2 separate regions of the Homo sapiens genome follow, and region 2 is linked to region 1. Evidence: fine-mapped expression QTL. A gene starts in region 1. The other region holds a variant in brackets. All regions are shown on one strand. Distances are between the middles of the regions. Region 1 holds the start of SGMS1 (sphingomyelin synthase 1). Region 2 has its middle 31 kb from the start of SGMS1-AS1.

The links. PIP is the estimated chance that this variant, and not a neighbour inherited with it, causes the effect.
Region 2: its variant is the best candidate, but not a certain one, in a credible set for the expression of SGMS1 in whole blood (INTERVAL, PIP 0.69).

What each region holds. Positions count from the first base shown.
Region 1 is chr10:50,622,627-50,625,537 of GRCh38, reverse strand. SGMS1 (sphingomyelin synthase 1) reads left to right here and starts at 1,582. Exons shown (of 11, transcript NM_147156.4): 1 at 1,582-1,831. SGMS1-AS1 (SGMS1 antisense RNA 1) reads right to left here and starts at 587. Exons shown (of 4, transcript NR_126411.1): 1 at 347-587. RefSeq lists silencers at 415-1,044, 1,169-1,326, 1,375-1,634, 1,895-2,234 and enhancers at 1,185-1,713, 2,425-2,824.
Region 2 is chr10:50,654,378-50,657,288 of GRCh38, reverse strand. No RefSeq gene overlaps it. Among named protein-coding and RNA genes, the nearest start is that of SGMS1-AS1, 31 kb to the right of the region's middle. The variant G/C (reference allele first, on the strand shown) is at 1,397.

The sequences.
Region 1 (2,911 bases):
CTGTAGGTCTAGGTGGGGCCGAAAACGTGCATTTCTAACAAATTCTAGGGTGATAGTGACGCGGCAGGTCCCGAGACAACAGGAAACCCAAGGGACTCGAGGCAGGCGCTCAATAAATATTCACTATGAACCTCAGCACCATCGAAGCGGCCCACCAGCAGGGGCCGCGGGGTATGCGCTGCAGGGAAGAGCACGGCCTCTGTCCAATGTCCCTGCCGGTACATCACTCCTCTGCAGGGACTAGGTTAGAACCGGGAGGCAGCCAGAGCAGCGCTCTCGCTGGATAACGGAAGAGGACTCCCTCGCCAACTTCCGCCTCTGGGGAAAAGCGGGGACCCTCCGCCACCTGAGTTCTGTTGTCTCGATTTCGCCGCAGTTTGCTTCTGGCCCGGGCGAGAACCTGTCCTCTGGGCAAGCCAGGGGTCGGTACAGGACTCCTATACCCCAAGGCGAGGCGGAGGCAGGTGCCGAGCGGTGGCCAGAGTCCGGCGCCCAAAGCCCGATGGGAGGGCGTGGCGGGGGAGGACGGTCCCGCCAGCTCCCAGGTCGGTTCCGAGCGCCCGCGGCCCGATGGCCGGGCGGAAGATGGCTGCCCGGAGCGCCGCGGACAGTCACGTGGTACGCCGGGCCCGTAGCCGCGCCCCTTCCCCCGCTCGCCAAGTCCCCGACCCCGCGGGAGGCACGGCCTCGGGCTGCCTGTAGGCCACCGAGGTGCGGCGCGGGCCGGCCAGGGACGGCGGGCATCGGGGCGGGAAGGCCAGCTCTCCCCGCTGTCCATCCTAACTTGGGCGCTGGGGCTTCGCTCGGGGAGCAGAGGAAAACCTTCCTTCAGGCGACTTGCACCACGTGGGGCTACTGGGCATGCGCGGGCTCCGACCCCGGCCTAGCCGCTCTCCGGGTTTTCGCCGCAGCTCGGAGGGGCGGCGGAAGGTGGGCCCCAGGCGGGGCGGGGCGGCTCTGACGCAGTCGGAGTTTTCACCTCGCGCGGTTAGAGCTCTTGCGCCTCCGTCGCGCTCCCAGGCGTCGCCAGAGGCTTTTTTTTTCTGTTGTGGGAGAAAGATGAGAGTCTATGGTTAGAGGTTTGAAAATGGGCCGAATAGTCAGGTCGGCCGTTTCCTAGGAATGATCCATTGGGCATTAATCCCAAGTGTCGCAGCCCTTGGGCTTGGTGGGAAAAAGAATCCAGTAGTAGTTCGCAAACTCGTGCCTGGCTTCCAGCAGGCTGAGTTTGCGTTCCCTGCTTTGTGACCAGCTCTAGCGGCTCCCGTCTCCGGCCCTGCCCCAAGGGATTTACCGTCCCAGATTGTAAAATCTGGCTCCCGCTAGGCCTTACTTAGTGGGCCCCTAAAAACGCTGGGGAAAGCGCCCGCCTCCTCAGTTTCCCATTACTTGAAAGTAAAATTCAAGGGGCCCAAACTGCGACTGTCCCTTGGTTCGGGGTCCCGCTCGGTCCCGGGAGGAGCCCCCCGCGGACCCCGCCCGGCCGGCCCGCCCCCCCGGCCGCAGTGAACACCCGGAGGAGCGGAGTCGCGTCGCGCGGGAAGCCGGGCCGGCTCGGGCAGCGGACTGGGCATGCTCGGCAGCCCGGGAGGCTCGCGGTGGCAAGTCGAAAGCGTTCGCACCAGCGGGGCAGCGGCTGCGGGCGGCAGGCGGCGGGCAGGTCGGGAGTGAGAAGGACCGGCCTGGGCTGACTGCTCTCCCCTCGCGCCTAGGGAGCCGGTCGGAGAGCGCGATTGGGGTGCGGAGCCCCGACGCTGCCCTGCCCCGGATTTCATTCCGCGGCGGGGGCTCCGCGAGCGGAATTCCGGCGGCTGCCGTGACTCCAGTGCAAGTGAGTCGTGGGGCAGGGACAGACAGCCGGCCTCACGGTTGCGGGGGCCGATCGGACACCTGTCTCGCGGGCCCGGCCTTATGCCGGGGAGCAGCGGGCGGGCTGCTCTGGGGCGAGGGGGCGTGAGCGCAGCCCGCGCGGTGCCGCGCGCGTACCTGGCGGGCAGTCCTCCAGAGCTGCTGCTCCCGTGGGTGGTCACAGCGGGGAGGTCCGGCGGCCGGGATCCGGGCTCGGAGGGGGCGGGCCGCCGGCGGGGCTCCCCGGCTAAGTTGGGGCGGGGAGGAAGGAGGAGGCGTCAGTGGGCACCTTTTCAGAGCTACTGCGTGCGGGCTGGAAGGCTGCCTGGTGTCGGATTGGGGCGATCGGGAGGCGGGGAGCCTTTGGGCAGTAGCCCGCCCGGGGTCCGGAGACCCCCACCCAGGGGCCGACTCCAATCACGGCTCCACCCCCACAGCCTAGGTGGCGGTGTGACAGTTGGTACCTTCGGTCCAGATCGCAGCCGGCCAGGCGCCCACTATTTCGGGATCCCCCCACCGTAGCCCCTCGATGCCCCCTGACGACAAAACAGGTGGGACCCCCCCTCCCCGAGGAGCGCTCCCCTTCTCTCCAGGCCGCGTAACAGCCCGCCAGGCTCGCGGGCGGCTCTGAGACCCCGCAGGGCTGCCCCCGCGGGGCGGGGACGTTTAGGGGCAAGGCCTGGAGGGGAATCGGCGCAGCCCAGAACTGGACAGTCTCTCCAGGACGCCGCTTTTCCGTGACAGAGGGGGTCTGCGCTATCCCCCAGCGACGTGTCAAGGGCAAAACAGCAGCAGCAGCGGCTGCCTCTCCCACCGTCTTAACCCGAACTCGGGCTTGTGGCGTCCTCCCGTGGGCCGGATAGAGTGCCCTAGTCCAGCTAACGGATTCAGCCTGGAGCGTTCTGGTGAATGCTGCTTTCCTCTTTGGTGCCGCGAAGTAGAAATCGGGATAAGGGTTGTCATGGCCGGAGGGAGCGAAGAGAATCCAGGCAGGTGCTTCTCAGATGTTTCTTTTCACCTTCAAACAGTACAGACTTCAGCGGTACACGCTTACGAAACCAAG
Region 2 (2,911 bases), 32 kb before region 1:
TAATTGATATACATTTATAAAAACTTTATATCTAATAGTGTAAGTCTTCACATTATATTTTTTCTTCAAAGTTATCTATACACTGCATTTTCATTTGCATTTTATAGTCAGTTTTTCAGTTGCCACCAAATATAATGCAGACAAATTATGCTATTACTAATCACAGTATTGTGATTTTCAGTGTATTACAAATATAGATTTATTTAAAATACTGAATCTTTCTTCTAATACCAAGAATGACATAGGAACATGGTACACCTTTATTTCTGTTGAATATCTTTAATTTCTCTCAGTAAAATCTCACAATTTTCAGTAAAGGGATTGCATATGCTATGTTATATTTTATATTAGGAATTCAATGTTTCTTCCTGGAAACATTTCAGATTTTTAATATTTTATTTGATTTAGACTCACTATATTTGGAAAGCTTTAATTGTAATTTTATTTTTAATAGATATAGAGCTATTCGGATTTGCTATTTATTCTTGTGTCACTGTTAATGATTTTCTAGAAATGTATCTATTTCATCAAATTATGTCAAAATTTTTGACTTAAAGTTACTTATTACATTCTCTTTTTCTATCCCATGACTATAGAATCTATAATGATTTCCTTGTTATTATTGATGATATTTAGAATTTGTGGATACTCTTTTTTTTTTTAATTTCACGCATAATCATGGTATATTTTTATCAGTCTTTTCAAAGTAACTTTGGCTTTTGCTGATTTCATTTATTTTATGATTGTTTCCTTTTCTCATGCTTCTTATGTATCTTCTCTTTTCTAATTCTTTGGATTTAATTTGACATCACATTTTAAATTTTTGAGATTGACAATTAGATTATTAATTTTCAAGCTTTAATTTTTTAAACAAGCATATGCATTTATCTCCAAGCTGAGGTTTGCCTAAGCCTCCCATCTTTTAACAAGCAGTATTTTTACTTTCATTTTTATTAAATTCAAAATATATTTTAATATTCATTGTAATTACTTTTTTGATGCATGAATAACTTAGAAATGTGATGCTTAATTTCTAAACATTTGGTTACTTTCAAAGTCTTGCTATAGATTTGCAGCTTAATAACATTGTTGTACAAAAAAACACTGTCAAGGATTTCAAATTTTTGGTATTTATTGATTCTTGTTATGGGCCTAACCTCAGCCTATATCTGTCTATCTAACCTATCTATCTATCTATCTACCTACCTATCTATCTATCTATCTATCATCTATCTACCTAGATAGACAGAGATATCTATAGATAGCTATGGTAAATTTTGAAACACGTTCCAAATACATTATAATAAATTGTGTGTTTTGCTATTTTTGGGTGCAGTTTTTATATCAAAGTATTTAATCCTACTGCTTTAAATTTTTGTATTATTATTGATATTTT[G/C]TATCCTTTTTGCTATCAGTTATTGAAAAAGGTATATTAAAGTCTTTATGATCAAAGATGCGGCTATTGCTCCTTTTAGTTCTATAAAAATTGTAAATGTGTGTTAACTCTGTGTGAGTGAATATACATACACAAGTTTGACAACTTCCTCAATAGTTGATTCTTTTATATGGATGATGGATACATCTTCCTTTCAGGTAATAATTTCTGCCTTAAAATCTCTTTTGTCTGATATTAACATAGCTAAACAAATTTTCATTTGGCTTGTGTTTGATTACCTTTTATATGCATATATGAAAGGTTTTTAAATTAAGATAGTTCTATAGATAGAAGATAGAAGATATATAGATAGAAGATGGTAGATATCTTCTACAGATATAGATATGTATATGTATTTATATACATATATAGGTATATTAATATTTATATGTCTATATCTGTATACAAATATATATATGCAGATATCTATACATGTATATCTATATAAATATCTACATGCCGATATATATATCTATGTGTGTATATGATATCTATGTCAATGATGTAGGAAGAGTATTATGTCCAATATTTACCAGGAGTCATTTCAGATAAGCAAGAGGGTTCTGGTATACATTTTCTCTTCCTACTCACTAAGGATCTACCAAAGCAAATCATTTGTAGAACAAGGAAAGTTATAAAATTCTCTCTCTCTCTTTTTTTCTTAAGAAAACTGGGGAAAGCCCTTAGACTAGCTTGGCTAGGAGGATGGTTTCTGTTCATATATTTTCTGGTCTGGTTTTCTCTTCTGTCATTCATGGTTTTTGATTATTATATTCTAGGTCATTGACTCCTGGCCAATCATTTCGCAGTTGTGGGAAGGTCTCCATTGCTACCTATTCCAAGTTCACTCTATCCATGGTATCTTGTCTTTCATGCGTATGCTCTGTGAAATTTTGGCTTCTGGTTCTTCACCCCCATGGAACAGGTTCTGCTTTCCTTTCACTGTGTTCTCCTCAACTACTCCCTGTGCTGCTCAGCACTGTCTGTGCACCTTCTTCTGGGGCTGCTTGTCGCAAGAGGGGTTAATCCTTCTAGTGTTTGGAATTGGGGTTTGGAATCACTTCCAGATTGAGAGTGAGATGAAAAATAAAATATGTTGTGTACTAGGCAGAGGAAGTAATGGTACTTCCTGGAGGTGAGATGACATAAGGGTAGGGAACACTGGGATGCACTGCCCAGATGTCTCTTCAGGAAAGACTTATTCTCCTTTAGGAAAGACCAAGTCTCCTGAGGACTTACTTTCCTTGCTGCTAGATGATAGCTCTCTGGGTCACTTCCGTTGGGGCATTGCCTTAGTTGCAGATAGACTCTTTGCCTGAGGTCACAGCCCCTGCCTTAGTTGCAGATAGACTCTTTGCCTGAGGTCACAGCCCCTGCTGGAGGCCCACAGCCAGTGGCTGATCGACAAGAGGTATGAAGGTTGAGACCTCTCTTGTCCCCAGTCAAGTCACCTTGGAAGGGTTATCTTATTTTTAG